Homo sapiens: one gene and its partner. The protein of the gene in region 2 purifies or fractionates together with the protein of the main gene of each other region. This does not show direct contact. Each region holds a gene or a part of one and is shown on either strand. Other genes may lie near its edges.

Region 1 (4,167 bases), on a different chromosome or scaffold from region 2:
CCCAAAGTGCTGGGATTACAGGCGTGAGCCACCGCGCCCGGCCTGTCACTCCTCAGTTCTAACTCATGAAGCAATCAGGGTTCTTGGGCCCTGTGACCTGGAACCATTCTGCTGCACCTGCACTGAGGGTTCAAGGACTCCTCACTGTAGGCCACGCCTGGTCCTCTTCTGGTCACCAGCCCGCAAGCAGCAGCTGGGCTGAGGGGACTGGCAGACCTGGGTCCTCAGCTTCCCTGGGCCTTGGTTTCTCCATCTCCATCTGCATCTGAGAGTGACAGGCAGGCGGGCATCTCGCGCGGGGGGCGGGAGAGCGAGAGCCGCAGATGCACAGTCCGCTTCCTGGATGCTGGACCAGGTGGTCCAGTTTTCAAGGCTTGTGTTTTTGGGGGACTCTTGATCAGATGGGACCACTCCCCGCAGGCCATTCTTTGTGGCTGCAGTGGCACTGAGCTCTCTCAGACTCCCTGGCTGCCCATGACCTCGGGAGCCCACTTCCGTCGGGACCTGCCTCCTCACCTTCCCGTGCCTGTGGTGCTGGTACTGTGTCTGCCCCCTCTTCTGGGGGATGTCCTCCCACCACCCTGCACATCACTGCCCTTTTAAATTCTTTCTGAAATGGGGTCTCGCTGTCGCCCAGGCTGGAGTGCAGCGGTGTGATCACAGCTCACTGTAACCTCCGTCTCCTGGACTCAAGCAATTCTCCCACCTCAGCCTCCCAAGGAACTGGGACTATAGGTGCGCACCACAATGCCTGGTTAATTTTTTATTTTTTAGAGATGGGGCCTTGCTATGTTGCCCAGGCTGGTCTTGAACTCCCGGGTTCAAGCGATCCTCCTGCCTTGGCCTCCCAAAGTGCTGAGATTATGGCGTGAGCCTCTGCGCCCTGCCCCCCACTCTTCTCTTAATCCCGGGGACGTTTTGACGGCTCTCCCGACATGGGACGTACGTCCCCAGAGGCGTGTGACCCAGAGCCCTGATGCCCACACAGCCCTGTGCTGCCCAATTTGCCCCGCCCCACCTGCCCCACCTTGATGCTGTCTCAGCAGCTCGTCAGGATCCAGAACCTGGCTGGAAAGCTGCCAGGCTCCACTGGGCCTGGAGGTGCAATCCTACGGCCTTGGAAGGGTCTTAGTCTGACCAAGCTGCAGAGCCAGGCAGGTCTGCTGGGTTCTGAGCTCAGACAACTGATGGCCTCGGACGCCTTGAGGGAAGCTGGGCCAGGCCCAGAAGACTCCCACCCCACCCTGTGGCCCCCCTGGAGGAAGAAGCCGGCCTCTGCGTGTGCAGTAACAGCTTTAATCTGTGGTGGCCCCTGCCCTCCTGCATCCAGGCAGGAAGAGCCGTTTCTCGGGGAATTAAAGCAGGAGCGTTTCCCACACTGTCTCCTGGGAGTCCATGCTTACAGTGACAGCACTGCTGAGTGGTGCCATGTCACCAGGGCTGGGCCTGGGCACAGAGAGGCAGGGTGCCAGTCTTTATATATTATACATATATATATATATATATATATATATATTTCATGTGTATACACAGTTTTCTCTTGAAAGTATTAAAAAATTGATCAACCTTCAATCTATAAAAAATACCTACTCTACATGATAGAAAAATCTCTCCTCCAAGTTTACACTGATTTACACCCAAGGCTTTCCCCAAATGTACAATAGGAGGCGACCTCTTACATCCTAGCGTGGAAGGCGGCGGATGTGGGGCCACACGTACACGCGCGCGCACACACACGCAGCGGGTGGCCAGTCTTGGTGATGGGGTCTGGGCCCACCCGGGAATGCTGGGGGTTGGGGCAGGCCCGCGGTCCTGCGGGGTGACACCGCTGTGCCTGGGGTGCAGACCCCGAGAAGCACAGGCCCCCTCCTGCTCTGCTGTGAGTCTTCCCTGCCCTCTCCCTCCTGCAACATGCACCCTCGGGGAAGAACCACGATTTCTAAGTGAGACACACCCAGAAGAAAACAGGGTTCCCGATGTTTGGATTCTGGCCTGGGAAGTGCGTGGGGAGGGTGTGGCCTTTAGGAGGCCGGGCCAGGCCGCACCTGTGGAGAAGCAGCACCTGGGAGCCAGAGGGGCCTGTGGCATCCACCCTGCCCAGGGAGAGAGCGCCACACAGCGGTCATCTCAGGTCCTGATGTCGGAGTGGAGGCCCCAGAGGCTCCTGCCCGGCCCCCATAGGTGGTCAGAGCCCCCAGGGGTTACTGCAGCGAGGACTGGGCCGTGGGAACAGCCACATGGCCTGGAGGCCCCAGAGCTGGACTGAGGTGACCACATCTGGCTGGGCAATGGCCCGAGCAGCGTAGGGAGAGCTGGGGAACGCACCAGCCTTGCCCACCCGTCCTTCCCCCACCACCATGTCCGAGGTGAGGGTCTGGGAGCCCGTCAGCCATCAGGAGCGGCTCAACATGGGTGACACGGCACCAGCGTACTTATGTGGGTGGCTTAGGCAGCAGCACCCCTGGAGGGACCTGTTTTCTTCCTTTCTTCCCAACAGGGCTGCACGTGGGAAGAGGGACCACCACAAGGAGGCCACAGCAGGGCTCACCCCACACCGCTGCACAGAGAGGCTCTCCAGCCCATCCTGCTGAACTGAAGTGTACGCGTTCATGGCCAGCTTGACTCAGGGCTGGGAAGCTCTGGGCCCCCGGAAGGTCAGCGCTGATGGACGGCCCTGCCACAACCCTCATCCTCTGTGGACCCCGGGCCCTGGGACTTCCCTTTCTCCCTCTCCTCTCCACCACCCTCTGCCCCTTTGGCAGCCCCGGTCTTTGGCGGCCCCAGCTCAGCTGCACGAGGGTTCCCTGCATGCTCTGGGCACTGTCGGCTGTGGGACCTGCTGGTCTTGGCTCCTCATGGTCTGACGGAACCACTCCAGGGTGTTGGAGTCCCGAATCCAGCTCAGGCTGGACCTTCCTGCCTCTACTTGACCTCCAGGATGGACGGGTTGGTCTCCATGATGGCCACGATGATCCTGTCGATGTAGTCCTGCAGGCGGAAGTTGATCTCCTCCTGCTTCTGAATCGCCTCCATGAGCTGTAGGGCAAGCAGGTGGTCAGAGCTGAGGCGCATGGGCCACAGGCCACAGCGCATAAACCACAGCGCACAGACAGTGCAGACTGTGGACCCCAGGCCACACCGTGCAGACACGGGATGTGTTACCTCATCTCGGGAGACGGAGCTGATCTCTGCAGCCAGGGACTCAGAGAAGGCTGTGGAGAAGAGGCTCTTGGCGCCCTGGATGCTGAGGGTAATGATCTGCCCGTTCAGCTCCTCGTTCTGCTCCTTCAGGTTGCGGTTGTCCTGAAGGCACAGCAACATCACTACTGGGCTGTGGCCCCTGCTGGTGGCTGAGCAGGGACAAGGACTGCCCGGGGAAAAAGGCCTCCAGCTCAGATGCTGACCCTCCACGGCCCCCCCTTCCCAACCAGTCTTGTGGAAGCTTCTGCAGGAGTGTGAGGGAGGGAGGCCCAGGCCTGCCCACCTGCTTCAGCCTGCGGACCTCCTGCTCCAGCTCGCTCTCCCGGGCGCGGCTGTGGTACTCCTGCAGGCCCATGCTGCTGCTGCGGCCCCGCCGCTGCTCGGCCTCCAGCTTGAGGAGCTGCAGGTGCTCCAGCTGCTTTCGGAGGTCCTCGATCAGCTGCAGGGCAACCGTGCAGTGAGCCGGGGGGCCTGGGCTCCCAGGGGCCACCGTCAGCCATCACTTGGCTGTAGAACCTCAGGGTTGATCTGGCCGTCTCTCGGGAGGACGACACACACCAGCGGCTATGCCCAAAGCAGCACAGCCAAGAGCTAGCGTCTCAGGAAACAAAGGCTCCCCGTGGGGCAGGCTGGGCGCAGGACTGGGCGTGGGGCAGGGTGGGTGCTCACCTCCTGGGTGGCCTCCTTGTCCCTCTGGAACTGGTGCCTCTCGTGACTCAGCCTGTCCCCCATTCTCCTCTTGTTCTCCTGCTCTTCACTGAGCCGCAGCGTCAGCGACTCTATCTCATCCAACAGCTTCTGCTTCTCCTGCAGGGGTGGACACCTGCCCTGGATGCGGGTCACGCACCTACCTGTGCATGCAGCTTGCCCCGGCCGTCTGTCCCTCCAATCTCTGAGTCTCCCAACAGCAACGCGGTGGCGCCCGTGCTTGGAGCGCGACAGGGCTGGGTCTGAGCCTTCCTGCCT
Region 2 (3,804 bases):
CTCATGTGTTTGTTCTTGGAATAGCCAAAGCAATGTGGCCTTCCTGGCTCTAAACTGACATGCCCTTATATTTCAGGGCTATTTAGGTGAAAGAAAAAGATATTAACGTTTATTGCATGCCCATTGTACACTAAGCCCTTTATATACATGACTTCTCACTTCATCACCGTGGGTGCTATTATTAACCCCTTTTATAGATGAGGAAATGAGACTCAGAGAAGTAACCTGCCCTAGATCACACAGCTAGGAAAAAACAGAGCCAGGATTCCCACCCAGGTCTGCCTGACTGAAGCTGTGCTCTTTCCCACTTACCACTCTGATGGGTGAGATCTGAGCAGATGTCAGAGGTGGGGTGGAGGGGAGTAACAGCTGGTCCTGGAGAAGAACTGGGGAATATGTTAGACAGGTGGGTTATAAGTGGCCCTTGGAGGGGTTCTCACCTGTGCATCAGGCCCTGGCAGCGGCTGTCCAAAGTCCTGCCCATTGGCAAAGGCCTCCAGTACCGACAGGAGGTCCCTGTTGCAAATGGCTGTCCAGAGTCGCTGAGGCTCAGGTGTGCACCGGCGTGCAAACCTATGCTCCACATACTTGGCCATAATGTAGTCCCTGCGGGTGCCCCTACCAAAAACAACCACAGGATCTCAGAGCATGGACCGTGTCTGCCCAGCTGATCCCTGGGGCCCTCCCACAGGAGATACAGCTCTCTTTTTCTCCAGAACCATGTCCTGAAGACGTCTAGATCTGAGGCTCCCCTCTCCCCAGGCTTTTTTTTTAGACAGTCTCACTCTATTGCCCAGGAGGGAGTGCAGTGGCGCAATCTCGTTTCACTACAACCTCTGCTTCCAGGGTTCAAGCAATTCTAGTGCCTCAACCTCCTGAGTAGCTGGAATTACAGGCGTGTGCCACCACGCCCAGCTAATTCTTGTATTTTGAGTACAGGCGGGGTTTTGCCATCTTAGCCGGGCTGGTCTCAAATTCCTGACCTCAAGTGATCCGCCCGCCTTGGCCTCCCAAAGTGCTGGGATTACAGGCGTGAGCCACTGCGCCCAGCCTCCCCAGACTTCTGATCCAAGACTTTTCTACGACCCTGGACACTGCGGAGGCAGAATCCCCTAGGCAGGGTGCCCCTCTCTCTGAGAATCCCCTTACATGTCACTCTCAGCTGAGGGTTTAGGGCCGCCGTGTGAGGGTAGCTGGGCCTCCATGACCTCATTGAAGCTCGTGTTTCCCATGTTCAAGGCCAGCTGGAGTCGTAGGAAAATAGACGTGGGGCGGAGTAAGACCGGGCGGTTAAGCCTGCATAGGGTGGAGCTCCAAGCCCCCAGAGTCCCGCCCCTCGGCCGCCCTCCCGGTTCAGGCCCCGCCCCTGACCACCCGCTACCTGGCTTGTCCCAGCCCACCTCGGCCAGGTCCCACCCACAACCTGCAAGCCCCGCCCCCGGATGAAACTACACCCCTAACTCCGCTTCTGGCCCCTTCCAGGCCCCGCCCCGCCCTCACCAACAACTCGGAGGGGCCCAGCAGGTCCAAGGTGAGTGACTGCATGCGCGAAAAGCGCACGCCCAGTTCGCGGTGGACGCCCGAGCACTGGATGCAGGTGAGCACGCCCAGGTTGGTGCTGAGCCACGTGGGGTCTGCAGAGGAAAGCAGCTGGAGCCTGGAGGTGCAGCCCCTCCCCTCCACTTAAGCCTCCCTCCTGCCCCGGCCCCGGGGACCGACCTGCAGCCCCGCAGTCGCAGCACTGGCTATTCCCAGGCCTGCTCTTCACCTCCGCGATGAGCAGCTTTGTGAGGTCGTGCGGCTCCCCATCATGGCCGGCGGACCCCCAGGACCCCGGGCCAGCGCTGGGCTCCCCGAGGAAGGCGCTGCTCAGGGCTTCGTCCTTGCTGTTCTGCAACACTGACACCCACCTGCGGAGATTGAACGGGGTGGGATGGGGATGTCAAGTGGGAAGAGATAGGGCCGCCGGCCCCCACCCACAAGGCTGGCCGGGCTGGCCGAGGGGGCACTCACGCCTCACACTCGTGCTCGTCCTCTGCCTGAAAGTGGTACGTCCGGTTGTCTGTCGGGAGAGAAGGGGGCTTCTGACCCACAGAAATGCTGCTGGCCTTCCCGGAGCCCAGGGAGCCCCCACCAAAGCCGCTGGGGCCACATGGAGATGTGTCCCTGACAAGTCGGACTCTCAAGCTAGGAGTGGGAAGGGAGTGGAATGACAGTGGCCAGCACCAGGGGCAGTTTCTCAGAACTGGCCTCCGAAGTAGGATCCCAACAAAGCTCCCTCTGCGTGAAGCCCTGGTTCCAGGCTCAGACGAGGTCTCAAAGGGCTTGGAACCCCAGAGAACCCAGCTCTGAGGCAGGGCATCCTCTGAACCAACTGTCACCACCCCACTGGGCCCTTCCTGGTCTCCTCCTGGGCGACCAGGCCTCCTGTCTGGTCTCCCTGCTTCCCATTTCCCCTTTCCCCTAGCCTGTACCAGCTCCCAACTGTTGTGCCCAAGGCTCTGCTCTAATTACACCACTGCCCTGCCCCAAGATCTCCCATGGCTCTCTATTGCCAGGAAATAAGGTCCAAACTTTTAAGAGGGATTTCCAGGCCTCATCTCTCACTCTGCTACATGAACCCTCCACTCTGGCCAAACCGGCCAGACCCACTCTCCTGCTTCCATGCCTTTCATCATGCTAATCCTGTCTCCTCAAAAGCCCCCACCCCACAAACTCTTCATTCTACATGTCCTTCAAGGCTAAACTCAAATACTGTCTCCTCCAGGAGCCTTTCCTGATTCCCCACAGCAGTGCAGGCCTTCCTGCTCCCTAATCTTCTATGGGGCTATATCTGCACCCATCTTCTGGACAGCCCCCTCATCTTACAGTCCTGGGTACCCACCCCACACCCCTGCCAGAGAGTTTCCTGAGGACAAGATCTAGGTCTTTCTCAGCCTGTGTCTGCTCTCACACAAAGCCTGCACCAAAGGCTCTGAAGAACGAAAAGTAGAAAATGTAAAGAAACAATAATTTCATCTCCTTCAAGTCTGGGTATTTGGGAAAAAAAGGTAAAATTTTAAAAAAAGAAATAATTTCAAAACCCAGATGACCCAAATCCACTCAAATATGCTCTGTATAAATAGCCACATTTATTATGTAAAGTGGGTGCATTTTGACATTTAATGTGATGTGGGTATCCTAGACCTAAGGATTCTTATGTCTGCAGTAGCAGCAATTCGACACCATGTGTGGAACTGGACACAGACCCCTCACTGAAGCCCCCCGGGAGCTGACAGGTGTCTTAGAGAAGCCCTGAGCAGCTGTGGGTGGGGGAGAGGCACAGGGACCACTCACGGGTCACCAGGTCGAAGCACTTTTTCTCCTCAGGGTTTGGCCTCACTTGGCACGTCAGCAGGGTCAGCTTCACCGGGGGCCGGTTTATCTGTGGGAATTTAGGGGCGGAGGATGTATGCATTACCTCTGGCCCTCCACATTCTTTAGGCCTCCATTTCCCACTCTGTTAAATGGGCATAATCATCCTGTTCCATTTGTGTTTCTCCTCACCCAGCAGCACCTCAAGGATGTGAAGTGTAGACTAAGACTAGATTGGGGCCTTCAGGTCCCATCTGTCCTCCCAAACGGGTCTCCAGCTCCCTGGACCTAGGTTTGGGGGCCAGTCTTAGAGGGAGGGCTTGACATTATTTGCTCAGAACACCAGAAGAAGAGGGTCCATCGTGCCCTGAGACTCCCACCACCTCTAGGCCTCACCGTGCTGTGTGAGATGGTCAGGCAGCCATACTTGACTCCACACTTCCTTTTCTG

Evidence for each region.
Region 1: the proteins of ASAP3 (region 2) and RAB11FIP3 purify together in Homo sapiens (affinity purification with western blotting, with the first as the bait; one study listed by BioGRID). This does not show direct contact.

Annotation. Positions count from the first base shown.
Region 1 is NC_000016.10:519,595-523,761, reverse strand, and holds the end of RAB11FIP3 (rab11 family-interacting protein 3), read right to left. Parts: intron 4,009-4,167; coding exon 3,871-4,008; intron 3,641-3,870; coding exon 3,485-3,640; intron 3,304-3,484; coding exon 3,163-3,303; intron 3,037-3,162; coding exon 2,923-3,036; 3' UTR 751-2,922; downstream 1-750. UniProt on the Homo sapiens protein: Downstream effector molecule for Rab11 GTPase which is involved in endocytic trafficking, cytokinesis and intracellular ciliogenesis by participating in membrane delivery. Recruited by Rab11 to endosomes where it links Rab11 to dynein motor complex.
Region 2 is NC_000001.11:23,435,411-23,439,214, forward strand, and holds part of ASAP3 (arf-GAP with SH3 domain, ANK repeat and PH domain-containing protein 3), read right to left. Parts: coding exon 3,751-3,804; intron 3,425-3,750; coding exon 3,337-3,424; intron 2,063-3,336; coding exon 2,014-2,062; intron 1,911-2,013; coding exon 1,720-1,910; intron 1,635-1,719; coding exon 1,501-1,634; intron 1,245-1,500; coding exon 1,150-1,244; intron 619-1,149; coding exon 441-618; intron 1-440. UniProt on the Homo sapiens protein: Promotes cell proliferation.